4 linked regions of the Homo sapiens genome follow. The protein of the gene in region 1 binds, or shares a complex with, the protein of each later gene. Each region holds a gene or a part of one and is shown in the gene's direction. Other genes may lie near its edges. The genes, in order: MED4, MED31, MED21 and MED12.

What was found.
Region 2: the proteins of MED4 (region 1) and MED31 are in contact, whole or in part, in a cryo-EM structure (PDB 8TRH), measured with the Homo sapiens proteins. Residues at the interface, in NP_054885.1 of Homo sapiens: Glu147, Tyr151, Arg154, Ile155, Asn159, Ala160, Val161, Cys162, Ala163, Pro164, Trp167, Arg173, Arg174, Pro175, Tyr176, Pro177, Met182, Leu186; in NP_057144.1 of Homo sapiens: Gln19 (codon at 6,137), Glu23 (codon at 6,149), Gln26 (codon at 6,158), Cys27 (codon at 6,161), Ala29 (codon at 6,167), Asn30 (codon at 6,170), Pro31 (codon at 6,173), Ala64 (codon at 6,549), Lys65 (codon at 6,552), Tyr66 (codon at 6,555), Leu67 (codon at 6,558), Lys68, Tyr69, Pro70, Gln71, Asp98, Ile102, Trp105, Gln106, Tyr108, Ser109.
Region 3: MED4 (region 1) and MED21 share a complex: the UniProt entries of both Homo sapiens proteins name them as parts of the mediator complex.
Region 4: MED4 (region 1) and MED12 share a complex: the UniProt entries of both Homo sapiens proteins name them as parts of the mediator complex.

The regions. Positions count from the first base shown.
Region 1 is NC_000013.11:48,092,105-48,099,289, reverse strand, and holds the start of MED4 (mediator of RNA polymerase II transcription subunit 4), read left to right. Parts: upstream 1-4,185; 5' UTR 4,186-4,211; coding exon 4,212-4,336; intron 4,337-7,185. UniProt on the Homo sapiens protein: Component of the Mediator complex, a coactivator involved in the regulated transcription of nearly all RNA polymerase II-dependent genes.
Region 2 is NC_000017.11:6,648,602-6,656,543, reverse strand, and holds the start of MED31 (mediator of RNA polymerase II transcription subunit 31), read left to right. Parts: upstream 1-4,938; 5' UTR 4,939-5,015; coding exon 5,016-5,043; intron 5,044-6,110; coding exon 6,111-6,188; intron 6,189-6,465; coding exon 6,466-6,562; intron 6,563-7,942. Other genes in the region: uncharacterized protein C17orf100, read right to left, coding at 4,274-4,630. UniProt on the Homo sapiens protein: Component of the Mediator complex, a coactivator involved in the regulated transcription of nearly all RNA polymerase II-dependent genes.
Region 3 is NC_000012.12:27,017,611-27,025,564, forward strand, and holds the start of MED21 (mediator of RNA polymerase II transcription subunit 21), read left to right. Parts: upstream 1-4,947; 5' UTR 4,948-4,969; coding exon 4,970-5,011; exon of another isoform or gene 5,012-5,261; intron 5,262-7,954. UniProt on the Homo sapiens protein: Component of the Mediator complex, a coactivator involved in the regulated transcription of nearly all RNA polymerase II-dependent genes.
Region 4 is NC_000023.11:71,113,881-71,121,610, forward strand, and holds the start of MED12 (mediator of RNA polymerase II transcription subunit 12), read left to right. Parts: upstream 1-4,715; 5' UTR 4,716-4,874; coding exon 4,875-4,973; intron 4,974-5,492; coding exon 5,493-5,597; intron 5,598-5,805; coding exon 5,806-5,997; intron 5,998-6,133; coding exon 6,134-6,290; intron 6,291-7,090; coding exon 7,091-7,272; intron 7,273-7,446; coding exon 7,447-7,557; intron 7,558-7,681; coding exon 7,682-7,730. UniProt on the Homo sapiens protein: Component of the Mediator complex, a coactivator involved in the regulated transcription of nearly all RNA polymerase II-dependent genes.

The DNA.
Region 1 (7,185 bases):
AGGCACAAGAAGGATAAGACATCAGTTTGACAAGAGCCCCTATCAGAACAATATGAATTCTACTAAAATTGAAGCAAGAATATCAAATTGATGGTGAAGCTTGTGTGGAAGAATGGTGAAATCTTGATGCTTTATGAAAAGTTTATGAGGACAATGCCCTAAAGAAATCAGCAGTTTTACAAATAGAAAACTCATTTGAAGAAGGGATGAGATGATGTTGAAGATAAAGCCTGCAGCAGCAGACCATCCACATCAATTTGCAAGGAAAATATTTATCTTGTTTGTGCCCTAATTGCAGAGGACAAGCAATTAATAGACAACACTATAGACATCTCAATTTGTTCAGCCTATACAATTCTGACTCAAAAACTAAAGTTGAGCAAACTTTCCAATCAATGGATGCCAAAACTGTTATGCCCAAATCACCTGCAGACAAGAGCAGGGCATTCAATGGAAATTTTAAACAAGTGAGATCAAGATCCTGAGGCACTTCTTTGAAGAGCTGTAACAGGAGATGAAAAATGGCTTTACCAGCACAATCCTGATGATAAAGCAAAATCGAAGCAATGGCTATCAAGAGGTGGAAGTGGTCCAGTCAAAGCAAAAGCAGACCAGTCAAGATCAAACAGCATGGCAACAGTTTTTGGGATGCTCAAGGCATTTTGTCTGGTGACTTTCTGGAAAGCCAAAGAATGATAACAATGGCTTATTATGAGAGTGTTTTGAGAAAGTTAGCAAAAGCTTTAGCAGAAAAACACCCGAGAAAGCTTCACCGGAGAGTCCTTCTCCACCACAACAATACTCCTGCTCATTCCTCTCATCAAACAAGGACAATTTTGGAAATGTTTCAATGGGAAATCATTGAACATCCACCTTACAGTCCTGATCTGACTTCTTTTTGTTTCCTAATCTTAAAAAAATCTGGGCCAGGCTCAGTGTCTCATGCCTGTAGTCCCAGCACTTTGGGAGGCCGAGGGGGGTGGATCACTTGAGGTCAGGAGTTTGAGACCAGCCTGGCCATCATGGCAAAACCCCATCTCTACTAAAAATACAAAAATTAGCTAGGCATGGTGGCACATGCCTGTAATCCCAGCTACTCGGGAGGCTGAGACAGGAGAATCACTTGAACCCGGGAGGTGGAGGTTGCAGTGAGCCAAGATTGTGCCACTGCACTCCAGCTTGAGCAAGACAACAGAGCAAGACTCTGTCTCAAAACTAAATAAATAAATAAAATCTGTAAAGGGCACTCATTTTTCTTCAGTTAATAATGTATTGGGAGGATTGCTTGAGCCTGGGAGGTCAAGGTTGCAGTGAGCTGTGGTTGCACCACTGCCCTCCAGCCTGAGTGACAGAGAGTGAGACCCTGTGGCAAAAAAAAAAAGAAAAGAAAAAAGTAAAAAAGACAGCATTGACACGGTTAAATTCCAAGGGCCCTCATTTATTTAGGGATGAACTAAATGGCTGGTATCGTCATTTACAAAAGTGTCTTGAACTAGATGGAGCTTATGTTGAGAAATAAAGTTTATATTTTAAATTATTATCTTTTAATTCCATTTTTCCATGAACTTTTTGAAGTCCTCTCATATTTTAGGTCAGAGGTTCCCAGTCCTTTTAGTACCTGAATATCCTTCTTTCTTTACAGAGAGCTGGGATAACCAGTGGTAAAGAGCACAGACCCTGGAGCCAGACTCTGGGTTCAGATTCCAGCTTTGCCATTTACTATATGACCCCGGCATGTGTCTTAACATTTCTGCCCCTCAGTTTCATTATCTGTAACATAGGGATAGTAACAGTACTTACCTCATAGGAGTGTTAGGAAAATTAAACAAGTTAATATTTTTGAAGTGCTTAGAACACTGCCCACCATGTCAATAAAATTTCATGAGAAAGTAGTGTCCTTTTTGAATCTACAGATTGAGAAAATATGTACCTAACTCCAAATTACCATGAATTCAGTAATACTATATAAAATAATTCATATTTGTTTATCACGCCTGGATTTGTACAATTTGCAAGACAGTATATCTGTGAAAGATGCTATTACTTATCAGTCTATAGAAACTGTTTAATATGCATATGAATTTGCAATAAATCTGAGGAGGTCAGGAGTTCACAATACACATACATGCTCCACACACTGATCCTCAGTGTCTGCAAAGTAGGACTATAATTGGTCATTTTTAACTAATTAGAATCCTTCTAGAATTTTTATGTTTACACTAATATAATGTTCTCTCTCCTCCTACCAGAGTCATGGCTCAATATGACCCGTGAGAGTTGAGTAAACAAAACCAACACATACCGCAGAAGTTTGGCACCCTGGAAACTTAACATAAGAAATGATTGACTAGAGTACTGAGAGGCATGTTTAGAATGCAAGTGTAATGAACAAAGCTTCAATCTACTTTAGCCCATTGCCTGAGAATTGACTGCATTAACAAAAAAGGGTTAGCCAACAGCAGATGCAGGGAACGGTCAGAAAACAAAAGGTGACAAGGATCTCTTGCACTGTCTAGAGGAAAAGGTACCCTGACCTATGAACACAAATAATCCAATCTCTTGAACACAAATATCCCTACACTGTGGAGACACAAAGCCTCATGATTGTGTCATTAATTTTTAATCTATCCTTGTTTGTTCTGATCCAAGTTTAACAAGCAACATCCTGTGATAATATGGCTTCTCATATAGTTTTGTCTATGGGAAAAAGATATGTTTGGCACTATTACTTTTCATCGTAAGTGAGTAAATCAGCATTCTAGATTACGCAGCAGTTGCTATGAGTGAATTTATTTAACATGAATTTCTAAAAGACTTGTCAACTCTGGGTGCCCAGGAGTCAGGTTTAGCACCTCCAAAAAGACAGAGTAGAGGATGAGACCCTGAAATGAAAGGACTACAGGTACTACTACCTCATGGGAGTGAGGCAGTCCCAGACCATCTTTTATAATAGCAATATGGAATCCTCATTCCCAATAGGCTTGTAACTTTGCTTTTTTCTGGTAGAGAGTGATCCCTACTACATTGTTATCCCTAGGAAAAGTAGGCTAAGACGTATTTTTGCCTTTGACAACCAGTTCTGGTTTGGAATGTGTGGTACATCAATGACTTAAACTATGTTAATTAACTACTACTTATGTACTGTATTGGTTCCTTCAGTTCAATAATTAACCTGAGTAATGAGCAAAACATTTTGTTGGAAGATGTATGGCTATAAAGATGGATTATAGCAATGTGGAAGTAACCTAACTGTCCATCGTCAGATGAATGGATGAACAAAAGGTGCCATATGCATACAATGGAATATTAGTCTTAAAAAGGAAAGATATTCCAGCACATGCTACATCATGGATGAACCTGGAGGACATAATGCTGAGTGACATAAGCCAGACACAAAAAGACAAATACTGTATGATTCTGCTTATATGAGGTACCTAGAGTAGCCAAACTTACAGCAATGGAAAGTAGAATGGTGGTTGCCAGGGCCTGGAGAAGGGAGGGATAAGGAGTTAGCATTTAGTGAGTACAGAGTTTGTTTTACAAGATAAAAGGTTTTGGAGATGGATAGTTGCTCAACAGTATGAATGTATTTAATGCCACTGAACTATCCACTTAAAAATGGTTAAGGTGGGCCGGGTGCGGTGGCTCACGCCTGTAATTCCACCACTTTGGGAGGCTGAGGCAGGCGGATCACGAGGTCAGGAGATTGAGACCATCCTGGCTAACAAGGTGAAACCCCGTCTCTACTAAAAATACAAAAAATTAGCCGGGCGTGGTGGCGGTCGCCTGTAGTCCCAGCTACTCGGGAGGCTGAGGCAGGAAAAATGGCGTGAACCCAGGAGGCGGAACTTGCAGTGAGCCAAGACATCCGCGGCGATGCACTCCAGTCTGGGCAACAGAGCGAGACTCGTCTCAAAAAAAAAAAAAGAAAGAAAGAAAGAAAAAAAACCATTAGGCCCAGGAGAATCAGACTGCGTTGCCCCCACTGTTCTCAGTTCAGCTGTCGCTCCCAGGGTTTGGACCAGAAAGCCCTCGCCGGCCCAACAGATGGCGCCGGTGTCCGCAGTGCGCCTCCAGGCCCAAAGGGGGCGCTCTCGCCAGGCCTCTTTTTCCTCTCCTGGGTGACTCTTCCGCCTTCCGAGCCCGCCTTCTCGCCACGCACCTGCGTCAGCTCGCTCTGCGCGTGCGCCGGTGGCGGGACTCTGGGGAAAATGGCTGCGTCTTCGAGTGGTGAGAAGGAGAAGGAGCGGCTGGGAGGCGGTTTGGGAGTGGCGGGTGGTAACAGCACACGAGAGCGGCTGCTGTCTGCGCTTGAGGACTTGGAGGTCCTGTCTAGGTAATGCGGCGAGCCTGAGAGCCGGGCTGGAGCTGGGCCGGGGGACTGACCCCGGAGCCGGCCGGCCCTGCGTTTGTGCTCGTTCTCGGGGTTCGGCGGGGAGGGCCAGCTCGGGAGTTTCGGGTGCATGAGGGTCATGGACGTGGGGTCCGCAGCCCTCTGGCACTCTGGGCGGCGGTTTTTCCCGTTAGAGGGAATTTTAGTAATGATAAGAACTCGCGCGGTCTGAGCCTCTTCGTCCGCGGCCAGCCACTTAACATTTATGGAACGCTCCTTGGGGGCTCAGCATTGGGGAGACGGTAGTGAAGGGTAGACTGGATGCCAGCTGTCGAGAGAGAGACAGATGTGTAAACTGGCTTGGGGCCTGTTTTTATTAGAGGGCTGCGCTGCGGGGTACTGGAGCACAGGGACTAGGCACCTTTTTTGGTTGTAGTCAGGGCAGGCCCTCTGAAGAAAGTGCTGCTTGGGAAGCATGAGCTCGCCAAACTCACTAGGCAGCACAGATAGATGGAACAGCAAGTGCAAAAAGCCTGGCTTGGTGGAGTTGCAAGTTGTTTAGGATGGTTGTGTGTCAGAGATAGGAGATGAAATTAGATGTCGTTCTTCATATTCTGTCACCTTTCATGATAAGTCTTTCAAGTTGAAGCCTTCCTTGACTCCCTCCCATTGACTTGGATGGTAAATTATCTTGGTTCTACCTCCTAAAGTGTCGCTCCAATTTGCCCTCTCGTTCCAACCCCGCTGTTCATAACTCCTTCTTAAATGTAGCCTCCCAAACAGTTTTAATTGCCTCATGCTTCTGCACTTTATCCTTTTATATTGGCCGATACCAGTTTTAAAAGGCATCTTATATCACTTTTCTGCAGAAAAATTATATAAAAGCTACCTCATTGGTAGGTTTGCGTTGTCCAGTGAGGTAAAGTTCAAATTCTTTAGTCAGACTTCCACATCTTCAGTGCCATTCCCAGTCTACTCCCGATTTGGTGAATGATTCATATATCCTTCAGAATCCAGCTCAAATGTCACTTTTTCTATAGCCAACATTCTTTGACAGCTTTAGAATAAATCTTACCTGTTGTATTTTAAAATATACGTGATATAATCAGCACTTTATTTTTGGTGTAAATTTAGTCCTTGCCATCGTATTGCTACCAAGTTACCAGGTCAGCACAATATTTAATGATGGAAGAAAACCCGAAAACACCTAGACAGCAGAAATTAAATGGCTTATGTGTTTGATCCACTGTTTAAAATAAACTGTATTAGGGCCGGGTGTGGTGGCTCACGCCTATAATCCGAGCACTTTGGGAGGCCAAGGCGGGCGGATCATTGGAACTTCTTCACAGAATGAAGCTGCTCTGGTGGTGTGACTGGCTTCCAGAAAGGTCTCATGTGTTCACTCAGAGGTAGTTATGTGTACTGATTCTGTGATCTGTGAAGTTTGTCAGTCTCTGAATGTAATTTGTGTCTGGCTTGCATTTATGAAAATGAGAAGAAAAATCACGAATATACCTTACATATTTTTAGATTTAGCCTCTTTAAAAATAGTGGATTTATAACTTAGGATCTTTTTTTTTCTATTAACCTGATTATATAGCCTTTCGGGATATTTATTAGTTTATAAAATGTAATGCAAGGAGATAGTCTTAAAAAGTTGAAACACAGGTTGTAGGCTAAACGTTTTTTTTAACCCATTTGTAACTCAAAACTCATTGTTCCACAGAACCATGTTGATAGGAATCTTGAGTTTTCCACACCAGCCTGTTAATTCTGTTTACCTGAAAAGTGTATTACTGCTAATAATGTAGGCTCTAACCGCTATGGAAATTTTATTTCTATGGGGAATTGTGTCTGGATTCTAATGCAGTATGCTGGGAATGCACCTTCTTTTTAGCAGGACAGGGCTCTTGAGTGTGGGGGCTTCCTTTGGCCTCTTTTTCGCAGTTGGGGAGGACAGGGGTTTCTATTTTGTCCTGGACTGTTACAGAACATGACTAAGTCTTAGAGACTTCTACCTCCCCTCTACTCCGGCGCCTAAGGCAAGCCTTGTAAAGCCTTCTGTGGACTCACGCTCCCAGATTTGCAAGAACAGAGGAAGGCTTATCCCACATCTCCTACCATAGCCCCACTCTAGTCAGCACCACTCCTGCCCCACCTGAAACCAGCTTTTACTTAGACCAGAGGTTCTCAACCGTCTATGTCTCACTTGTGGCGTACACTAAAAAGTTTACTTAACATGCTGTTTTCATACGCTGTTGATCCATCAGCAAGTCCTGTTAGCTCTACCTCCAAAAGATATCTGAAATCTGTCCATGTTTCTCCCATCACGATTACTAAGTCCTGGAGGCTATAACCTCGTCAAAACCAGTGTCATTTTTTGCCTGGAACACTACAGAAACCACCTAACTTACTTCCTGTTCTGGCCCTCTTACAGTCTATTTACCAGATCACTCAACAGTTTTTAAAAGTATAAATCAGGTCATGCCATTTCCCTGTTTAAAATAACCCAGTGGCTTCTCATTGCATTTAGAATGAAACACTAGGCCGGGCGCAGTGGCTCATGCCTGTAATCCCAGCACTTTGGGAGGCCGAGGCCGGCGGATCACCTGTGGTCGGGATTTCGAGACCAGCCTGACCAACAGGGAGAAACCCCATCTGTACTAAAAAAAAAATACAAAATTAGCCGGGCGTGGTGGCACATGCCTGTAATCCCAGCTGCTAGGGAGGCTGAGGCAGGAGAATTCTTTGAACCCGGGAGGTGGAGGTTGGGGTGAGCCGAGATCGCGCCATTGCACTCCAGCCTGGGCAACAAGAGCAAAACTCCATCTCAAAAAATAAAAAATAAAAAA
Region 2 (7,942 bases), on another chromosome or scaffold:
CGGCTTCAGAAGGGCTTGGAAGGTCTGCAGCAGAGGTGGCGAGGCCGCTGGAGGTTTGAAATGGCTTTTAAAATAGAGAAACCGGGAGGACCGACGACCGCTCCGGCGACCGCAGTTTCCAGGCACCAGAGCTGTGTGGAATGAGGGGCGCTCAGGAGCATCCCCTTAATTCCAAGGAGATCGAGTAGCGGAAACATTTATTGAGCGTTTACTGTGTGTCACCAACTGCCCACCATAGGGAGGAAAAAAGGGAGGAGGGAGCGCGCCTTTCCACCTTCCGTGCCCCGTCCCCTCACCATGGAGTCGCGGGGCCACCTGCTCCGTGCGCATTTTCTCTCTTTCTGGCTCCCTTTGCCCCGCTTTCTCGGAAGCTCGGAGCAAGGGCGTGGAGTGCGGGGAGCAGGGCTCCGCAGGTTCAAGAGGACGCGGGCGATCGGGGGCGGGACGGATATTGGGCAGGGACGCGGGAGATGCTCAGGGTCTAGAACTGACTGCGCCGGATTCTTGTTTAGAGGGAGGTGAAGAGAGGAAGGAGGCGCGGGTGACACCGGGGGAGGCAGGAGGAGAGGGCTGGGAGGTGGGGAGAGGGGAGGACCTCATCCGGGCATGTTGCTTTGACGTTCCCTGAGACAGACATCCGGATTTGGCGATCTGGGAGAGAGCTAGAGCAGTGATGGGAATTTGGGCTTTCGCGGAAGAAAAAAAGTAACAGGACCGGGTAGAACACCCGGTAGATATGACATGAGATATGACGGGAGGTGGGTCGGGAAATCGAGAGCGTTCTCCTGTCTTGACTCCCCATCCCTTCCCTCTCACCACCCACTCCACCCCAGGTGATAAAGCCTGAAAGGTAGAGATCCAACAGCGCTAGCGGTTGAAACGTTTTTTAAAATAGAGAAAGCGAGAGGACCGACGGCGGCTCCGGTGACTGCTGAGTTTCCAGACAAGGGAGCTCTGTGCAATGAGGGGCGCACAGGAGCATGCCCTCAATTCCAAGAAGATCAGGTAGCCGGAAAATTTATTAAGCGCTTACTGTGTGCCACCTGCGTGTTTTCTGTCCAAATCAGAAAAGGATTTGGACAGAAAACACGCAGGAAGAAGGAATCAACCCCTGGTACAGCAGGCAGGCGAGGTAGGGGTAGGAGTTATGCACGTGTATGCAAGCCTGGATGGCTGGGAAGCCAACCTCCATCTAAAGGCAAGCGCGGACATGCACACACACACACACGCCTCACAAGTTGGATTGCAAGAGAGGGTGAAGTGGGCGAGGAGACCCAGTCAGCCGTGGCATTTGAGGAAGGTACATTTAGGCCACCGAATTCATTCCACCAACTTTGCACACTTGTCTTCCTTGTGCCAGGCTCTGGGACTCATTCCTTTTGAGGGTAAAAGTCTGCCTCCCTGGACTCCTGCCCCTCAGGCGCTCCCACAGCCCGGCACCGCCCCCTCGCCATTCCGGAGCCAGCGCGGGCTAAGCGGGCCTGGCCGGGGATGAGCGGAGCCACCGTCCCCATATTCCTCGGTGCCCCGGGACCGCAAGAGGGAGCCGTGGTTTCCGGAACTCCTCCCGCCCCTCCGGGCTTTTCCTCTGTTAGGCAGGTGGCGATTCGCTGTCTTTGCCTGTTATGGCCGCTGCCGTCGCCCTGGAGACAGGTGAGTAGCGCTCTGAGCCTGGAGTCTTCGCAGATAGAACTCTCCTTGGCCCAGACCTCTTCTCCCGCTTCCCCTGGGCCTCCTTCCAGGCCTCACTCCCGGCAGGATTAGTATTTGGACAGGGAGGAGAGAAGGCTCTTGCAGCGTCTAGAAAGGCTAAGGTACTCTGCAGTTTTCCTAATTTGGTTTGTTCGCACACCTTTGCTATTCAAACACGACCCCACCAGCTTCCCAGCGTGGGCGAGACTAAGGGAGAGGACTTGTGTCTTAAAGCGTGTCCTCCTTGTGTCTTAAAGCGTGTCCTTGATTGGTTTTCTGCTTCTCACATGAGCTTGCATACGTTTGAAATATCGTCGCCAGACCTGTGTATCATTGTGTTACTTGTGATTCTTATATATGCATATGTTCCATCATCTTTTAGGCTCTCTGGAGTCTCTTGTTCAGCTTGCATCCTAAGTTTTTCTTAACTGATTCAGCACGTGCTTTTGCGAAACTTAATCACTGTTAACAATTGTTACAATGCATTATTAAAATAGGGGAAGCCACAGTTATTACAGCCTACCTTAGAGATCACTGTTAAAATTCCTACATAGTGGCCCATGAGTGGTAGGTATTGTGTCTCATTTGTGTTGCTGTTTTCTTTGATGATTTCTCTTTACTTTTAAAGGTAACCCTCTTCCATGACTGTTCCTTAAAGTGGTGCGCTGTCCCAGTAGACCATGCTCTAGCTTTCCAAGCTGCTAGAACTGTCAGTGTTTCTCAGCCTTGGCACTATTGACATTTTGGGACCAGTGATTCTTCATCGTTGGCAGAGGGGAGGGTGTTGACCTGTGCACTGTAGGATGTCAGGTGGCATCCCCGGACTCTACCCGCTAGGTGCCAGTAGCACCTAATGTGCCACCCACCCCCTCCCAACAACTTTTCAACCAAACTAAAATGTCTCTAGAGGTTGCCATATATCCTCTGGGGGACAAAATCACACTTAGTTGAGAACCACTGTCCCACATTCTACACACAGAAGCCAAAAGGATATTTTTTAAATGTAAATGGCATCATGTCGTTCCCCTGTTGGAAACCCTTCAATGTTTTCCTGTTGACCTTAGAATAATCTCAAATTCCTTACTGTGGCTTAGAAGACCTTCTGTGGACTGGCCCCTGCTTGCTTTTAACTCCTCTCTTCCGTTCTGCTTCCATGTCTATATAATTGCTTCTCTCTCACTCCAGCCACACTGGCCTTCTTTCTGTTCCTTGAACATTCAAAGCTGGTTCCCATCCACCCTTTGTATTTGCTGTTCTTCTGCCTAGAATGCACCTGTTCCAGATCACTGTTCATTCACACATATCTCAGATTACATGTTAACTAATCAGCAAGGCCTTCCCTGACCATTTTATCAAAAGAAGCCACTTACTTCCATTCTCTATCACATTACCCATGTATTTCCTTCATAGTGCTAATCACAATAGAAAATTGTCTTGTTTCATCATTGCTTGTCTGCCTTTTCACCAGAGTGTAAGCTCCACTAGAGCTGGGACTTTGCCTTTTTTACTGCTATAGCCCAAGTTCCCAGAATACAGACAGTTCCCAACTTAAGATGGTTTGACTTATGATTTTTCGACTTTACAATGGTACAAAAGTGACATTCAGTAGAAATAGTACTTTAAGTACTCTTACAACCATTCTTTTTCACTTTTAGTACAGTATGCAATAAATTACATGAGATATTCAACATTTTATTATAAAACAGGCTTTCTGTTAGATGATTTTGCTCAACTTTAGGTGTTCTGAGCATGTTTAAGGTAGGCTAGGCTAAGCCATGATGTTTAGTAGGTTAGGGGTATTAAGTGCATTTTCAAATTACCATATTTTCAACTTACAATAGTTTCAACGGGAGGTAACCCCATCGTAAGTGGAGGAACATCTAGTGCCTGGCACAGAGCCGGTTCTCAATAAATATAACTCTTCTCCATCTTCTTCAAACCTCAGGCCAGGTTTCAGTGACCTCCTCTCACTTTCTAAGATTATTTTTGCTTGCTGGTGGGTTTACTGTCATTTTTAACCACATCTAACCTACCTTAAAAAAGTGTATGGATGGGGGTGCCAGGTACAAAGACTTAGCATAAAGAAAACGACCATTTACTTTGAAACATAAACAAAGGCCAATTAATAATTTATGAGTCTGTTCCTTGTCCCTCGAGTTTTTAGCAGGCATGGAATCATTCCACAGGTCATTATTTCAGTTTGGTCTCTGTTCCTAAGGGGTGAAGGTTTTCTGAGGGCTGTGGATCCCAAACTCACCTGGCTCAGAGGCTCAAACAGCCTCTCTTTGTCCATCAACCCGATTTAGACAGCATCCTGGGCCTGAAAACCTTCTGTGCTGGCTTCAAGTGAAAATAGTTCACTGGGTCAAAAGTAGGCTGGTCCAAGACGCAGGACGGTCAGTAAACGTTGGCTGTGTTCAGAAACTGCGGCTTGGCTGTTTCTTACATTGATTTATGGTTTGTTTCCATGAAACCGAAAATGATTGGTCCACCTGGCAGCTGGCTGGCTGGCTGGCAACTGGAGGCCTTTCTGTCCTGGCTGAGGGCCCTGGCCCCTTGGTGGCCTTTGGGAAGCAGCATCTCATCGGGCCGTTTTTTCGTTCTGGCGGGCGGCCGGCTTGGCCCGCGGGGTCGGGCTCTCCGCGCAGTGCAGAGACGTCTCCACCCTCAGGGACGAGGCTCTGACGTGGCGGGAGGTCGTTTCCGTGCGCTGCGAGGAGGATTCCACGTGCCGGGAGGACGCCTCGAGGATGCGAGGGAGCCGCTTCCCCGAGGGGGAGAGGGAGGGCCCCTCGCTGCGGCGCTGGGAGGTCTCCACCCGCCGGGACGACGTCTCCACGCGGTGGGACGAGGTCTCCACGCGGACCGTGGACGTCTCTGTGTAGCGGGTGGTCCCCACCCGGGGCGAAGACTGCTTGGCCCCTCGGGCTGAGGCCATTCTGCCGGCGTGAGGGGGCCAGGGAGGCCTCGGGGCACCCTACAGCCCAATGGTCACCGCAGGCAGAAGAGAGGAAAACTACGGTACTGCCATAGCCGGGAGCGCCACAACACGATGACGTGGAAGCACCATGGTCCTTCGAAGGCTAAAACACTGGACTCCTGCCCCTCAGGCGCTCCCACGGCCCGGGCCCCGCCCCCTCGCTATTTTGGAGCCAGCGCGGGTGGAGCCATCCCAGGGCTGGTCGGGGATGGGCGGAGCCGCCCCGCCCCATATCCCACAGTGCCCCGGGACCGGAAGAGGGAGCCGTGGTTTCCGGAACTTCGCCCGCGTCTCTGGGCTTTTGCTCTGTCAGGCTGGTGGCGTTTTGGTGTCTTCGTTTGTTATGGCCGCTGCTGTCGCTATGGAGACAGGTGAGTAGCTCTCTGATCTTGGAGTCTTCGCAGATGGAACTCTCCTTGACCCAGACCTCTTCCCCGTGGCCTCCTTCCAGGCCTTACTCTTGGCAGGGTTAATATTTGGACAGAGAGGAGAGAAGGCTCTTGTAGCGTCTAGAAAGACTAAGGTACTCTTTGCAGTTTTCCTGATTTGGTTTGTTCGCACATCTTTGCTATTCAGACACCACCCCACCAGCTCCCTGGCGTGGGTGAGACTAAGGGAGAGGACTTGTGTGTTAAACCGTGTCCTCCTTGATTGGTTTTCTGCTTCTCACATGAGCTTGCCTAAGTTTGAAATATCGTCGCCAGACTTGTGTATCATTCTGCTACTGGTGCTTCTTTTTTTTTTTTTTTTTGAGACAGCGTCTGGCTCTGTCGCCCAGGCTGGGGTGCAGTGGCGCGATCTCGGCTCACTGCAAGCTCCGCCTCCTGGGTTCACGCCATTCTCCTGCCTCAGCCTCTCAAGTAGCTGGGACTACAGGAGCCCGCCACCGCTCCCGGCTAATTTTTTTTGTATTTTTAGTAGAGACGGGGTTTCACTGTGTTAGCCAGGATGGTCTCGATCTCCTGACCCTGGTGCTTCTTATATGCATGCGCTGCATGATCTTTTAGGCTCTCCGCAGTCTCTTGCATCCTAAGTTTTTCTTTACTGATTCAGCCCCTAGCGTTTGCGAAACTTAATCACTGTTAACAGTTGTTACAACGCATTATTAAAATAGGGGAAGCCACAGTTATTACAGCCTACCTTAGTGATCACTGTTAAAATTCCTACATAGTGGCCCACGAGTGGTAGGAATTCTCCGTTTGTGTTGCTGTTTTCTTTGATGATTTCTCTTTAACTTTAGAGAAACTTCTAACTTACTCCTTTTAATCAGGGCTCCGCTTTTCTTAGATTTCGAAGGAAGGTTTATCTCCTCCCACTCCTAGTTTAGGAAGACCATCTCAACATTAGTCAGGTTTCTTTATTGCTCTTTCCTTACTACAAATCAGTATTATATACAGTGACCTTTGTTTTCCATGATTTTTGCTGTCTTGTCTCCTAGATGATGCTGGAAATCGACTTCGGTTTCAGTTGGAGTTGGAATTTGTGCAATGTTTAGCCAACCCAAATTACCTTAATTGTAAGTTGTTAAGCACCTCATTAAATTGAGTAGCTATTAATGATTTCTGACAGAAGAGTTGCAGTTCAAAATAGTATCTACTTTTACACATTCTCAGTTGAATGACATTACACTTATGCTGGTATATAGATATAATTGCGTACTGGGACTTGTGTTTTGAATCCAATGTGTGTTGGTGGTGGGGGTGTTATGTAAATAGATCCTTTATATTAGGGGTAACAAATCACAGTTTAAGGATTGGTTTGACCTACAGATTTTTTTTTTTAATGCTTTTCAGTTCTTGCCCAAAGAGGTTACTTCAAAGACAAAGCTTTTGTTAATTATCTTAAATACTTGCTTTACTGGAAAGACCCAGAATATGCCAAGTATCTAAAGTAAGTTTAATTTTTATAATCCTAAGCATGTGTATACTTTATTATATAATAGATTTCTTAGTTTCACATTGGCAAAAATGTATTTGGAATCTCTCCACTTCTTTTTGTTATCACCGTCTTAATACAAGACACCCTCATCTCTAACTTGTAACACTGCAGTAATCTACTCCCTGGTTATCTGTGCTTCCACTTTTACCTTCCTGCCCCCATCTCCACCCCAACCCAAACCAAGCAAAACAGCTTTCTACACAGAAACCAGCTTAATCTTTTAAAAATATAAATCAGAACACTTTACTTTCTTGCTTAGAACCTTTCAATGGCTTTCCATTCCATGCAGAATAAAATCCAGTCTTTTTTCTTGGACTAAAGCCTTATACGATCTGGCCCTGCCTTTTCTGACCTTGTCTTTTACCACCCTTCCCATCTCACCAGGTTTCTGGTCCCTAAGAACTCACAATCTGTAAATGTAGTAGCATAAGCCATGGGCTGAAATTAAAAGAGGGTATCTGTAAGGAAGGTGTTTCTGGGGTTATTTGAAGGAGGTGATCTTACCTGAGTCTTAGAGTTGCTGTCTTTTATTTAAGGCCTCTTATTTGCCAGGAACAGTGCTAAATGCTTCATATGCATTAACTCATTTATATATATATATTTACCATTCAGGTCGTTCAGCAGACACTTTCATGTTAAGGCTTACTAAGTTGCAAGAAACATATTATAACCACAAAGCAATTCCCTTTTAATGGTTAAAAAAAAAAAACAAAAAAAACAAAAAAAACCAACCCACCTTGAACTCACACCCCTGCTTTGTCTTAAGCAGGTAGAAAGCAATAATGAACCTTTAAAAAAAAAAAAAAGTTTGAGAGGAAAATGTTTCAAACTTCTCTCAAAGTCACTTTTCTGTGTCCAATAACAATTGACTCACGAAGCACATACGTCTTATGTTGCCTGCAGGACCGTTTGCACCTTTTCTGGCTTTTTATCCATTTAATAATCCAAAGAACAGACTTTTAAGAAAAGTAGACTTCAACGAATATTGTATGTATGTAGATTTACAGACTCAGTGTTGGAAGCCTTAGCCACCAACAAGTTTAATCTTACCCACAACGTTGCCGAGAGATGGTCATCTACACTCTGGAGGTTTCCATTGAGCCCGTGTTACTCTGTCAGGGACAGCTGATTCGATTGTTAGCCAGATATTAGAAAGTTCTTCCTTATATTGTGATATAATGTACCTCCTTGTAGCCCCAGTCTGTTTGTCCCTGGATGAAGCTAGAACCATTCTATACCCTCTTGAGGACAACAGCCTTCCAGATATTTACATTCAAGAGAGACTGCAAATTAGCCCCTTTTGGGTGTTTTATTCAGTCTGCAGAAGATTTT
Region 3 (7,954 bases), on another chromosome or scaffold:
TCTGTGTTTTACTGTCTGCTCTTTCTGGCTGCTTATAGTTAGAAGAGAAGTGATTTCCTTGAAATGCATGAGGCTAGAAAGGGAGCTGGAACTTAAAGTGGCGGTGTTTGTCCGAGATGACGGTGCTCCTGGTCTGTCACCAGACTCAAGCAATCCTGCCACCTCAGCCTCCAGACTAACTGGGACTACTACAGGCTCACACCACTGTGCCTGCCTTGTTTTCTTTGTAGTATGCATTCCTGGTTATGTACATAGAAAAAAAGGTTGAAAAATATATGCCAAAATGTTTAAAATAGTTATCTTTAGGTGGTTAAATTAAGAATGATTTCCTTTGCACATTTCTGTGTAAAAGTTCTACATTGAAGTGTATCATTTTTAAATAAGAAATTATGATTTTGTAAAAGATACATATAATTTTAAAGGTTTTCTTATAAAAGCATTCAAGATATAAGTCCACCTTCCTGAGTATGACACATAAATGCTTTTTGTGATGCAACTCCTGCTCACCTCCCTAGGTTCTTGCTGCAACTAAAATCAGACCTCTACATGCTGGCCACATTGAATTAATTTCAATTTCCTGAACTGAGCCTATTCTCTCTCCTCCATACCTTTGCATCGCAGTTCCCCAGGCCTGCAGTTGCCTGTGCATGCATGACAGTTGATGACAAATGTGTCAGCAATCAGAACAGGGCCTCATTACCTTGGCTTCTAAGTACAGTATTGTGACAGCTTGGGAGGATGATTGGCTGGGGTTCCATGCTCATGTCAGAGTTCCATTGGAGAGCTGAGAAGCAAACAAGCTTAGCAGCTTTGCAGATTAGTTCATTTTTCCTATGTATTGAAAGGAAATGCAGAAACTGAAAGATTCCCAAATCCAAGATATGCATCATTAGAGGCTTAAAGTCTGTTTAGGCCAGGCGCAGTGGCTCATACCTGTAATCCCAGTACTTTAGCAGACCAAGGCAGGAGGATCTCTGGAGACCAGGAGTTCAAGATCAGCCCAGGCAACATAGTGAGATCCCCATTCTTACACACACACATACACACACACACACACACAACCAGAAAAAAAAATTAGCTGGGCATGGTGGGGCACATCTGTAGTCCTAGATACACAGGTGGCTGAGGCTGGAGAATTGTTCGAGCCTAGGAGTTTGAGTTTGCAGCGAGCCATGATTATGCCACTGTACTCCAGCCTGGGTGACAGAGCAAGACCCTGTATCTAATAAAACAAAAGTCTGTTAAAATTTAGAAGAGGAAGGAAGGGCAGGAGGGAGAGAAGGAGGAAGGGAAAAAACTTACCCTAGCTTTTTAAATAAAACCTAAAATACCTTAAATGGAGCTGGGAGTGGGGATCCAGGGAAAAGGCAGGATTGAACCTCTGTGAAATTTGCCCATTCATTCTTTCCCACTCTAATCTCACCTTCATCCTGTATTTTTTAATTCTTATGCTCTTTTGTGGGTAGTAATTTACATTCTTTGTTCATTAAGTTAAATTCAGTAAATGCTTGTTTAGTAGCTATTATATGGAAATTATTATGCTAGGAAACTCATTCATTTGGTTGATAAATATGTGCCAGGCTAAAAGTTAGGTGCTAGGTACTGGAAATATGGAAACAGAATATGTTTTCTGCCTGCAAGTAGCCCATGGACTGGTGGGTGAATTAGCGTGATGTACAAATAATTACAGCACAGTATGCTAAGTGCAATAACAGAAGTGTAAGGAACAATTGTGTTAAAGATTGGGAGCATTTAACTTTCAGAATTCAGGAAAGGCTTTTATAAAGAGATGTTTAAAATAAGATTTTGTTCACTAGTATAGTGGCAAGTAAAAAAAATAATAATAGGCCGGGCACAGTGGCTGACGCCTGTAATTCTAGCACTTTGGGAGGCCAAGGCGGGTGGATCACCTGAGGTCAGGAGTTCAAGACCAGCCTGGCCAACATAGCAAAACCCCGTCTCTACACAAATACAAAAAACTTACCCAGGTGTGGTGGCGGGCACCTGTAATCCCAGCTACTCTGGAGGCTGAGGTAGGAGAATCACTAGAACCCTGGGGGCAGAGGTTGCAGTGAGCTGAGATCGTGCCACTGCATTCCAGCCTGGGTAACAGAGTGAGATTCTGTCTCAAATAAATAAATAAATAATAAAATAAGGTTTGAGTACTGTGTGGACAATCACCAAGGGAGCAAAGTGGAGATGTGGATGGAAGTGTAGGCATTTCATACAAGGAAGAAATAATTATAGGTGTTTTTATATGGTGTGCATTTTTGTAAAACAGCAGAACATGTTTAGGGAATTTCAAAGAGTGTGGTATAGAAAAATGCTTATTTATAGTTATTCATCCCGGCACTAAGAACAGTTTAGATATTTAATAAATTGCAACTGTGAGTATTAAAGTTATTTAAAAATTGCTAAAGGTGTTTTTCTTAAAAAATAGTTGCTACAGTCATAAAAACCAAAGCATTTACAAGATTGACTGAGTGGCTCACTGCTGAAGCTGTAAAGGGTATGCGAGGGTTCACTATACTGTCTACTTTTCTATATCTTTGAAACTTTTAATAATATAAAGTTTCAAAGAAAGTACTCACCAAAATTGTGTGTTTAAAATATGAGATCTGTAATACTGGGTTCCTGCTCCTAAAACCATATAATCCAGTTGGCGATGCAACAGAAGCAAATGGAAAAGCATATGAGAAAGTGTCCAAATCATGAAAGGAAGAAAGGAGAGGTCCCTATGGACTCTAGCAATTCATAAAATTTATATGAGAAGTGTACAGCTTAAAAAGGTAGGGTAAGGATTAAATAGCAGGAAAGAAATTGCTTTGGGAAAGGTAAAGAATGAGGAAAGAGCTAGACCAGTGGTTCTCAATTGGGGGCAATTTTGCCCCCCAGCAACATTTGGGACTATCTGGAGATACTTTATGTTGGCATAAATGGATTGGGGGGATGCTACCGGCATCTCAGGGGTAAGGGACAGGGATGCTCTAAACATCCTACAGTGCACAGGTCAGCATCCCACAGCAAAGAATAATCTAGCCTGAAAAGTCAAGAGTGCAGCCATTGAGAAATCCTGAGCTAGATGCACAGACTATATTTGGCAGGTGGGTTATTCTTGAAGTCTACAGCTTCAAGAGCTTCCTAAACCCCTTTTCAAATGTAGGCTAAGTTGAGAGTCTGGTCTGGGGAAAGGGTCCACAGCTTTTATCTGATTCTTAAAAAGATCCGTGGCCGAAAGAGGCTGAAGAACCAGGAAAACCAAGGGGTCAGGGACCTTGGCTGAAACAGATTATTTCACTCAGAAAATTATCAGGAGGTGAGGCTGGGTCTGTTTGCTGGAGCCAGATTATAGTAAATCTTGAAAACCAGGCAGAGATAGTTGGACATCAACCTGAGGTCTCTGTGGAGGCACAGAAGACCTATTAGGAAGATAATGGCAGGACAAAAACTGTGTCACAATATGAATGTCTTGAAGTGGCTTCTCTACTTCAACTGCCCAAGTTCCCTTCAATCAGGCTGCAAAACTTAGTATTCTTATGGAGTGGACTAAACTATATCCAATCAGTCACCAATCCATATTAATTTTTTTTCTCAAAAATATATTTTAGTCTTTCTTTCCCCGCTTATCAGGGTCAACACCCTATTCTAGGCCCAGCTCATCTTAATCTTGGACAACTGCAAAACCTTCCTTAGTGAGTCCTTGGCTTATTCATCTTTGCAAATTGAGCACTGGATATACTTCCTGGCATGTGGCAGCCATTCCGTAAGGTACACTCTCAAGTGAGGGTGGGAGGAGAAGGTTGTAGAATCCCCCCAAGTTACAGTGAAAACAAATTACAGAGTGATTTCTCATTAGTCCCATTATGGGGAACATGCCTCATCCACGTTCTTAATGAGGCTCCAGTAAGTCTGTAGACTGTTTGGGGCTGAGGGTGGGGCATTGGTGTGAAGCAGAAGTGGTGCTTCACAGTAAGTGTTGGGATAAATCCAACAAGCTGAGTTCCCCAGGGACTGTGTCTTCCACCTTCCCCGCAGCCACAGGAAGGTAATCACGGATAATCAGCCTGAGAAAGAGGATATGAGAGTTTTTTGAAGTCTACAAACCTGTTATTTGCCGATTCCAAACTCATTTCTTACCAGACTATCCTCAGGCTAAATTTCCTTAAATACCAAGTTTCGATTATCACTTTTCACACTTAAACTCTCAATAAGTCCCAACTCTAAATCTAAATTGTGCAGCTAATTTTTCTTGGCCGAGCACGGTGGCTCACGCCTGTAATCCCAGCACTTTGAGAGGCCGAGGCGGGCGGAGCACGAGGTCGGGAGATCGAGACCATCCTGGCTAACATGGTGAAACCCCGTCTCTACTAAAAGTACAAAAAAAAAAAAAAAATGCCGGGCGTGGTGCGGACGCCTGTAGTCCCAGCTACTCCGGAGGCTGAGGCAGGAGAATGGCGTGAACCCGGGAGGCGGAGCTGGCAGTGAGCCGAGATCGCACCACTGCACTCCAGCCTGGGCGACAGAACGAGACTCCGTCTCAAATAAATAAATAAATAAATAAATAAATAAATAAAAATAAATATATTTACTCTTCAATTTGGTCAATAAATAAACACGAGAGGGTACGAGAAATTACTTAAAAAAAAAAAATCCCCGCAGAATCCAACAATCTCTGAAGCCTTTAACACCTAACAACCCCAAGGGGAGTATTTCGGCTCTTGGACTGTATTTCAAAGCGATTGGACCCCAGACCATTCCCCCAGTTACTCAAAAGATCCAGCCTCTCCTCAGGTGTAGCCCGCTCTAGAAAGGCCGCCTCGGGAGTACCACCCACTCCTGACGGGGCGGGGAGTTCTCTCCGACCCCACCCGTTCCAAGGACGCAGCCCTGTGATTGGCCATGACGCGTGCCAGAGCTGCCCAGTCGCGGAAGAGCAGCTGTTTTGGCGTCTGTTTGCTGCGGTAGGAACATGGCGGATCGGCTCACGCAGCTTCAGGACGCTGTGAATTCGGTGAGGAATTTCATTCGATTAGCCTCTGTCTTTCTCTTTCTTGAGGTAAAGCAAGGGAGGAAAGGGGCCCAAGAGGCAAAACTTGAAAGTGGGGAGCGGACTGAGAGACAGGGCTTCGGCATAAAGCGCTCTCTCGGGAGGCGCCACCGCGAACTCGGAGGTTTGAGGCCGGCTGCCGGGCGGTGCTTGAAGGTGCGGGAGGGAGCAGACTCTTTCGCTTGAGGAGACCGGGAAGATCGTTCTTGTCCGGGTGAGGCCGCCAGGACTTGTGGGCTGCGCGGTCCTGTCGTGTTCCCTGAGGACAGTTTTATTTTCTTGTCAGTGGTGCTTACGGGTTCTCTTTCTTTTGGGGGTTGGGAGGAGAAGCAGGAGCTTTTTTCTTTCCTCATCAATTTTAATCCACCAAGGGAGATCTCATGCTCTGGATGACTGGGTTTTTGTAATGAAATGTCAGCCGAGAGTATTCCTTCACCAGCGCTTTCAGGTTGGTGCGGGAGCGATGCTGAGGTGAGGTGAGAGATTTTCTTTCATCTTAGCTCGTTCCTTTGGGCCCAGAGTATCCTTCCATCTCTTGCCTCTTGGCCATCCCTCAGAATACATCAGTTTGGGGACATCTTTATGATAGGAAATCTTCTAATCCTCGTATGTCTTTCCGCTTATTTGAGTCTTTTTTCTTTTCTTTTTTTTTTTTTTTTTACTTTGGAGACAGTGCCTTTCGCCCAGGCTGGAGTGCAGTGGCGCGATCTCTGCTCACTGCATCCTCCGCCTCCCGGGTTCAAGCGATTCTCCTGTCTGAGCCAAAGTAGCTGGGATTACAGGCGCCCTCCACCACGCCCGGCTAATGTTTGTATTTTTAGTAGAGACGGGGTTTCACCATGTTGTCCAGGCTGGTCTCAAACTCCCGGCCTCAAGCGATCCTCCCGCCTCGGCCTCCCATAGTGCTGGGATTACAGGTGTGAGCCACCGTGCCCGGCCTACAAGTCCTTTTTAATGTCTCCCCCAAATTCTACTCTCTATTAAAGGCCAAGTCTAGTAAGTAGCTCCCCAGCTTTGTTCCTTCTGGTTATTTTTCCTCCACACTATGCCTGAGTGGAAAGTAGAAGCAAAGCCAGAGGATGCGCAGTCATGGGCCCCTAATGAAGGGGTCATGTTCTGAGAAATGCATGGTTTTGGCGATAACTTTTTTTTTTGTTTTAATAAGTAGAAGTACAATGTAAAATAACGATAAAACAGTAATACATAAACCAGTAACAAAGTCATTTAGTATCATTATCAAGTGTCATGGACTGCACATAATTGTATGTGCTATGCTTTCATACACTGGCAGTGTGGTAGGTTGATTTACAGCAGCATCACCACAAGCACTAAGGAACGCATTGCGCTACAGCGTTAGTACTGCTACGATGTCACTAGGCAATAAGAATTTTTCAGCTTTATTATAACCATAGGGGACTGACATAATATGTGCATCCCGTTGACCAAGACGTCAGTGGGTATTCCCATGCGGCAATGGGTGTACTTATTACCATTACGAGTTAGATTGTTTTCTGCTAAATAGTTTTCCATTGATAGTTATGTTTCTCATTGTCTGATTGTGATTTAATGTCCTAGATAAGGGGCTAGAGAGAAAACATGCTGATAGGAAAACCTAAGTACCTGGTTTCCTTGCCAGTTTTTTTTTTCCTCACTGTAAGCTAATAACTTGGCATTTTTCTTAATACATCAGAATTTGTACACTTGAAGAGTGTGAATCTACTTGTGATAAAACTGATCTACCCTGGGTGAATAACACTAGTTTTTAAGCTGAGAGGACCAGCCTCTAAGTGTTGAATTCACCAAGATAAATTCTACCCTGCAGGGACTTGCCTGGGCTGCCAGCCAGCCTTCCTCAGGGAACTACTCCTTTGAGGTTTTACGAAATCAAATTGTAATGATGCTGCTGGATAGAAATCTTATTTTAGGGAAAATTTTGCATATTCATACATGTCTTGTAACTAGAAGGATAATAAGGACAGAGTGAATATGGCCTTAACTCCAGGTTAGGCATAATGATAATTGGATTTTGGAGAAAAGCCTTTAGGATAACTAGTATGAGTGCCTACTGTGTGTAAGCACCATCATGTTTACAAAGAGATACTCCTAAAGGAGGTTAAAAAATGTCAAATACTCAGGAGACATTTAAGTGATGGAAAAACAGTATGTGGTTAGGGAGTTATAATGAATTGAGTATTTTCAGCTTCAGGTTCTGATGTAAATTGGAATATGGAGTGATGTGAACCAAAATAGGGGGAATCTTCTTAGCATTTATCCTAATCAGAATTATTTGTATAACTTTTAACATTTGTTCTACCCTCTGAAAACCGTGAGTGCAGAAGCTATGTCGCATTCACTATGTCTCTGTAGTGTTTATATGCAGTACTTTAGTTATTTTCCATAAATTTTTGTTGACTAAATGGATCTTAAAAGCTTTTGAAGGATGGAAAAGATAGACACTGTGTTGAATATTTTTTTGTGTGTGTTTCCTCTATTACAACAATGCTATAATAGGAGAATGTATCCAATTTAAAAATGAAAAATGCTGCTTGGATTAATAGAGCTAGGATCAGGATCTAGGTTTGTATAGCATCTGAGCACTTATTGCTCCATTACAATTAGCAAAACCTGGGCAAAGCCATTTAGTCATAAGTGACTTTATGACTAGTTAGATAAATATGAAGGAGTAGTGGAAAACGAGTCAGTAGAGTTGACTTAGATTATTGAAAGCTTCAAAACAGCCTGAGTTGGAGATTTATCTTGAAGACAGTGGTGGAGTAAGCTTAAATGTTTTGATCAGGTTAAAATAAATAACCTGGTGAACTGGAAAACAACAAGAAGACTATTGTAATAATTCTGGTGTGAGATAATTGGTTGAACTAAGCAACAGTGATAGAAGGAAAAGAGAAA
Region 4 (7,730 bases), on another chromosome or scaffold:
CTCTTCCTAACTTTCTGTAGGCTAAAATCCTTCAGAAGGCAAAACCCCATCTCTACAAAAATACAAAAATTAGCCACGTTTGGTAGCACTCACCTGTAGTCCCAGCTACTCAGGTGGCTGAGGCACAAGAATCACTTGAACCCAGGAGGCAGAGGTTGCAGTGAACTGAGATCGCACACTGCACTCCAGCCAGAGTGACAGAGCAAGACTCTGCCTAAAAAATAAAATAAATAAAATAAATAAATCCTTCAGGGCTACATGCCTATTAGAATAGCCAAAATGGGCTGGGCAAGGTGGCTCACACCTTGCCTGAAATCCCAGCACTTTGGGAGGCTGAGGCGAGTGGGTTGCTTGAGCCCAGGAGTTGGAGACCAGCCTGGGCAACACAGCAAGATCCCATCTCTTGTTTAAAAAAAAAAAAAAAAAAAAAAGAGGCCGGGCATGGTGGCTCATGCCTGTAATCCCAGCACTTTGGAAGGCCAAGGTGAGTGGATCATTTGAGGTCAGGAGTTCAAGACCAGCCTGGCCTACATGGTGAAACCCCGTCTCTACTAAAAAATACAAAAATTAGCCAGGCAATAGTGGCGCATTCCTGTAATCCCAGCTACTTGAGAGGCTAAGGCAGGAGAACTGCTTGAGCCTGGGAGGCGGAGGTTGCAGTGAGCTGAGATTGCACCACTGCACTCCAGTCTGGGTGACAGAGTGAGACCCTGTCTCAAAAAAAAAAAAAAAAATTGCCCAAATCCGGAACACGGACTACACCAAATGCTGGCAAGGATGTGGAGCAACAGGAACAACTCTCACTTGTTGCTGGGGGAAATGCAAAAATGGTACGGTACAGCCACTGGGGAAGACGGTTTGGCAGTTTCCTATAAAACTAAACATACTCTTTCAGCAATCATGTTCCTTGGTATTAACAAAGGAGTGGAGGCCGGGCGCGGTGGCTCACGCCTGTAATCCCAGCACTTTGGGAGGCTGAGACGGGCGGATCACGAGGTCAGGAGATCGAGACCATCCTGGCTAACACGGTGAAACCCCGTCTCTACTAAAAATACAAAAATTAGCCGGGCATGGTGGCGCGTGCCTGTAGTCCCAGCTACACAGGAGGCTGAGGCAGGAGAATGGCGTGAACCCGGGAGGTGGAGCTTGCAGTGAGTCGAGATCGCGCCACTGCACTCCAGCCTGGGCGACAGAGCGAAACTTCGTCTCAAAAAAAAAAAAAAAAAAAAAAAAAACAAAGGAGTGGAAGACTTGTGTTCACATAAAAACCTGCAGACGGATGTTTATAGCAGTTTCATTCATAATTGCCCAAACTTGGAAGCAACGAAGGTGTCTTTCAGTAGGTTTATGGATAAACTGTGGTACATCCTGAAAGTGAAATATTATTCGGTGCAAAAAGAAATGAGCTATTAAGGCCGTGAAGAGACATGGGAGAAAACTTAAATACATATGACTAAGTGAAAGAAGCCATGCAGAAAAGGCCACCTACTATAGGATTCCAACTATATGACATTCTGGAAAGGGCGAAACTATGGAGACAGTAAAAAGATCAACGGTTGCCAGGGGTTGTCGGAGAGGGAAGGATGAATAGGTGGAGCAGAAAAAGTTTTTAGGTCAGTGAAAATATTCTGTAAGATACTACAATGGTGGACACATGTTATTCTTTGTCCAAACTCACAGACTGTATAAAATAACATCAAGAGTGAACTTTAACGTAAACCATGAACTTTGGGTAATGATGTTCAAGGTAGGTCCATCAACTCTAACGAATATACCATTCTGGTGGGTTTGTTGTTGTTGTTGTTGTTGTTGTTGTTGTTTTGTTTTGTTTTGTTTTGTTTTGAGACAGAGTTTCACTCTGTTGCCCAGGCTGAAGTGCAGTGGGGTCATCATGGCTTACTGCAGCGTCCACCTCCTGAGATCGAGTGATTCTCTCCCCTCGGCCTCCAGAGTAGCTGGGACTACAGGCGCCCGCCCCTAAACCCTGCTAATGTTTTATTTTGCTTTTGGAGAGATAGAGGTTCTACCATGTTGCCCAGGCTGGTCTAGAACTCCTGGGCTCAAGCAATCCACCCATCTCGGCCTCCCAAAGTGGTGGGATTACAGGCATGAGCCACCATGCCTGGCCCACTCTGGTGGGGGATGTCAATGGGGGAGTTTATCTATGTGTGAGGGCAGACAGTATATGGGAATTCTCCATACCTTCCTCTCAATTTTGCTGTGAATCTAAAACTGCTCTAAAAAATTCTTTTATGCTGGGTGCTGTGGCTCATGCCTGTAATCCCAGCACTTTCAGAGGCTGAGGTGGGTGGATCGCTAGAGACCAGGAGTTTAAGTCCAGCCTGGGCAACATAGCAAAACCCTGTCTCCACCAAAAAAAAAAAAAAAAAAAAAAAGCAAAAATTAACCGGGTGTGGTGGCCAGCGCCTGTGATCCTAGATACTTGGGAGGCTGAGGTGGGAGGTTTGCTTGAGCCCAGGAGGTAGAGGTTGCAGTGAAGTGAGATTGCACCACTGCAGTCTAGCCTGGGCCACTGAGTGAGACCTTGTCAAAAAAAAAAAAAAAAGAAAAAAAAAGAAAGAAAAGAAAAATTATCTTTTTAAAAATATCCTTCAGGTTGGTGGCTCACGCCTGTAATCCCAACACTTTGAGAGGTGGAGGCAGGTGGATCACCTGAGGTCGGGAGTTCGAGACCAGCCTGACCAACATAGAGAAACCCCGTCTCTACTAAAAATACAACAACAAAAAAATATTTAGCTGGGCATGGTGGTGCATGCCTGTAATCCCAGCTACTCGGGAGGCTGAGGCAGGAGAATCGCTTGAACCAGGGAGGCAGAGGTTGCAGTAAGCCGAGATTGCGCCATTGCACTCCAGCCTGGGCAACAAGAGCGAAACTCAGTCTCAAAATAAATAAATAAATAAATAAATAAATAAATAAATAAATAAAATATCGTTCAGGCTGAGCGTGGTGGCTCACGCCTGTAATCCCAGCACTTTGGGAGGCCGAGGTGGGCGGATCACTTGAGGTCACGAGTTTGACACCAGCCTGGCCAACATGGAGAAACCCCGTCTCTACTAAAAATACAGAAATTAGCTAGGCATGATGGCGCAAGCCTGTAATCCCAGCTACTGGGGAGGCTGAGGCAAGAGAATCACTTGAACCTGGGAGGCGGAGGTTGCAGTGAACCGAGATCACGCCACTGCACTCCAGCCTGGGCAACAAGAGTGAGACTCCGTCTCAAAACAATAAATAAAATAAAAAATAAAATAAAATAAAAATATCCTTCAGAGTTAGTTCAAATGTTACCTCAGCCTCCTGAGCAGCTGGCATTACAGGCGCCTGCCACCACACAAGCTAATTTTTGTATTTTTAGTAGAGATGGGATTTCACCACGTTGGCCAGGCTGGTCTTGAACTCCTGACCTCAGGTGATTCCCTGCCTTGGCCTCCCAAAGTGCTGGGATTACGGACGTGAGCCACCACTCCCCGCCTTGAATTACTTCTTCTTTCCATTGTGATTCAATAGCATTTTGTTATTTTTGTTACTGGTGTTATTTTTGTTTATTGTTATTTGTTACTTTTGTTACAGCACACTGGCTGTCTTTTCTCTAAAAGGCAATACAAGGCCGGCACAGTGGCGCACGCCTGTAGTCCAGGCTACTGGGAGGCTGAGGCGGGAGGATCGCTGGAGTCCAGAAGGTTGATGCTGCAGTGAGCCGTGATAGCGCCACTGCACTCCAGCCTAGGCGACAGAGGGAGAACCTGCCTCAAAATAAACAAATAGCAATACGACAATAGGATATTGGCTCTGGAATTCAGAATCTTAGTGCCAGCTCTGTTACTCAGTAGCTGTATAATATTGGATAAGTGAATTTTCACACTTTGAAAACCAGCTTCCTCCATCCGCAAAATCGAGCCAATAATAATCCCTAACTCATGAGGCTGTGAGCAGATTAAAGGAGATAGTGTCTGAAAAGCATCTGACACAATAGGTGCCTCTTTAGCTAGACCAAGGGTTCTTAACCTGGAGTTCATGGACCCTTAGGGGATACATGGATGAACTTCAGGGGATCTAAGAATCTAAAGCAACATTTTGCATGTCAATATATGCATATTATTATTATTATTATTATTATTTCTGGGAAGAAGGTCCATAGCTTTCATCAGCACCTTTAAGGGTTTGTGAATCAAAAACGTTAGTATGCGGTACCCTTGGGCAGAAAAACAAACAAGAAAAGGTTAGACAACTCGATGGTAGACCTTGAGGGATTAGAGCCAGCCTTTCAGGGTTTAATAGGTTCTTTCTCATGCATACATAGTTTCTAATGTTCACAATAGCCCCTTGAAGGAGGTGTTAGCGCACCTATTTTTCAGATGCCGGAACTAAGAAACGAACTGATCTGTAATAGACGGAGTTCCTAACCAATGCAAATATTATTGAAGACTTTTCTAGGCCAAAACCGAGCTAGGCTATGGGAACCGAAGTCCAGTCAGAACTCAGCACCACAGAGGCCTCCTTCTTCCCTGGTTTGCATCCCCAGCTCATTCTGCGCCTCCGGAACGTTTCATAGATTTTTGCTGAGTGAAATCGACTTGCTGCCGCCACCGCCGAAAAACTCCCGGGGCACAGAGCTCCGCCCCCACCGGGCCAGGCCCCACCTCCTCTGCAGTCGGTATTGTCCGATGGTTCCCGGCGTACCTCGGCTTCCCTCGGTAGTTTCCGGCAATGGTCGAGAGTTTCTAACGTGCCCCCTTGTTGTCTCTCGGCCGCCGTCCTCTCAACCACCGCCCCCCTTTTCGGCTCCCTCTCCCCCTTCCCGTTCCCCCAGTCAGCCTGGCCCTGCTGGTGCCTCCGGCGCTACGGGCTGGGCAAGATGGCGGCCTTCGGGATCTTGAGCTACGAACACCGGCCCCTGAAGCGGCCGCGGCTGGGGCCTCCCGATGTTTACCCTCAGGACCCCAAACAGAAGGAGGTGCGTTCGAAAATCGGGGCTCTGGAGGGGCCGGGGGCACGCGGTCAGCCTAGGAGGAGGCACTGACGGCTGGGAATGGGGGGCGGGGCGGTTCGGTGAGAGCAAAAGTCCCGAAAGGGGGAAGAGTAAAGTGGGCTGGCGTGGGAGGGCAGGACGGGGGGCGGTGGGGGGTTCCAAGGTATGAATAGGGGGTGGTGTAGGGGCCGCACCAGAGGCGCCCTCCTCCACACACACCTCAGAAAGTTGTCTGAGACAGCTTGGTGGGGTACGGCTGCTCGGCTGTTCGCAAGAGAAGAGTGATGTTTGAGGGCGCGCTGGGTGGCTGGGAATCCTAGTGACCATGGGAGTGAGGGTGGGGTCCAAGTGAACGTAAGGGCCCAGCTTTAAGTAACGATCTGTTCTACACGGAACCCTCCTCCTGCCCTTTCACCTTGTTCCTTCTTTTCTCCTGCCCTACTCTCCCACCCCTTCCCCCTTCCCCTAAGGAAAAAACAACTAAACGCCGCTTTCCTGCCTCAGGATGAACTGACGGCCTTGAATGTAAAACAAGGTTTCAATAACCAGCCTGCTGTCTCTGGGGATGAGCATGGCAGTGCCAAGAACGTCAGCTTCAATCCTGCCAAGGTGAGACAACTCTGCCAGGCTGAAGGAAAAGGCTGGAAGAATCTAAGAAGGAGCAAAGGCCCTGGGTTGGGAAGACTTATAGGGACAACCTAAGTGGCTGAGTTTGCCTTCATGACCTAATACTATCTCATTGGCATTTGCCCAGCAAAAGGCAGGACCACCTGTCTGCCCCTTCTTCCCACCCTGAGGTACACTTTTCTTCCCTCAGATCAGTTCCAACTTCAGCAGCATTATTGCAGAGAAATTACGTTGTAATACCCTTCCTGACACTGGTCGCAGGAAGCCCCAAGTGAACCAGAAGGATAACTTCTGGCTGGTGACTGCACGATCCCAGAGTGCCATTAACACTTGGTTCACTGACTTGGCTGGCACCAAGCCACTCACGCAACTAGCCAAAAAGGTAAGGTACTGTTTCCTGTCCTTCAGGCCAAGGAGGGAGCATGGGGTACCAAGTACCCTCCTATTCCCATATTAAGCTACATGGGTGTCAGCTCATGGGGATAATAGAGACCTCACTATTTGCAATGTCCATCCAGGTCCCCATTTTCAGTAAGAAGGAAGAGGTGTTTGGGTACTTAGCCAAATACACAGTGCCTGTGATGCGGGCTGCCTGGCTCATTAAGATGACCTGTGCCTACTATGCAGCAATCTCTGAGACCAAGGTTAAGAAGAGACATGTTGACCCTTTCATGGGTGAGTAACTCCTAACACCAGGTGTACTGCTGATGGCTTCAAGGAGTGATAGAGACACCCTTGGAACCATCCTCCTTCTTAATCTAGATTCCTTGTTTCTGCTTGTTTCTTGCATTTGTTTGATCAGTAAACACTGAGAAATTTGAGTGTCTACTGTGCGCATATACTGGGCTACAAAGATGTCCGGTGCATAATCTCTGCCCCTAGGATACTAGTAGTCTAACAGGGCTGCTAAGGTATATGTACAAATAACATAATTAAATATAGAAAGTGGTGAATGTCAAGCTAGGAGCAGAAGGTTCTTTGAGTGGACAAAAGATTACTTTCTTATGGGGGTACCCGGAAAGGCTTTAGGAAGGTGGGATTTGACTAGAGACTAAAAGGATGAACTGAATTTACAAATATGGTGATTAGGGGTGGGGGTAAGGTATTCTAAGTAGAAGGATTTTTTTTTTTTTGAGACAGAGCAAGACTCTGTCACCCAGGCTAGAGTGCAGTGGCAGGATCTTGGCTTACTGCAACCTCCACCTCCCGGGTTAAAGTGATTCTCCTGTCTCAGCCTCCCGAGTAGCTGGGATTACAGGCGCCCACCACTGCGCCCGGCTAATTTTTGTATTTTTCTAGAGACGGGGTTTCACCATCTTGGCCAGGCTGGTCTCGAACTCCTGACCTCGTGATCCACCTGCCTCAGCCTCCCAAAGTGCTGGGATTACAGGCATGAGCCACCGCACCCAGCCAGTAGAAGGATATTCTAAGCAGAAGGATAGTATCAAATAGCCCTTTTTCCCTCTTTCCTCCAGAATGGACTCAGATCATCACCAAGTACTTATGGGAGCAGTTACAGAAGATGGCTGAATACTACCGGCCAGGGCCTGCAGGAAGTGGGGGCTGTGGTTCCACGATAGGGCCCTTGCCCCATGATGTAGAGGTGGCAATCCGGCAGTGGGATTACACCGAGAAGCTGGCCATGTTCATGTTTCAGGTAGAGAGTAGGGCATGCTGTGTGGGGCATTGGGTTGAGCTTGAACTTGTACTCTGCCAGTAGAGAACAGAATCTGCCTGCCACCTTGCCCCAGTTGTGGTTCTCTTCATCTTTTCATTTACTTTATCTGCTTCATCTCTAATAGTCCCCTCTTCCCTCCCCTGGTACCCATAGGATGGAATGCTGGACAGACATGAGTTCCTGACCTGGGTGCTTGAGTGTTTTGAGAAGATCCGCCCTGGAGAGGATGAATTGCTTAAACTGCTGCTGCCTCTGCTTCTCCGAGTAAGGCTTGGAATTTTGGTACTGGTGGGGCAGGGGGAGTCTAAGAAGAATTTGAGGAAGAATAAAATGTTAGAGCAGGGTCCCCTGGAGAGAACTAGGGGCTCTGATGGTCGTGTCTTCACAGTACTCTGGGGAATTTGTTCAGTCTGCATACCTGTCCCGCCGGCTTGCCT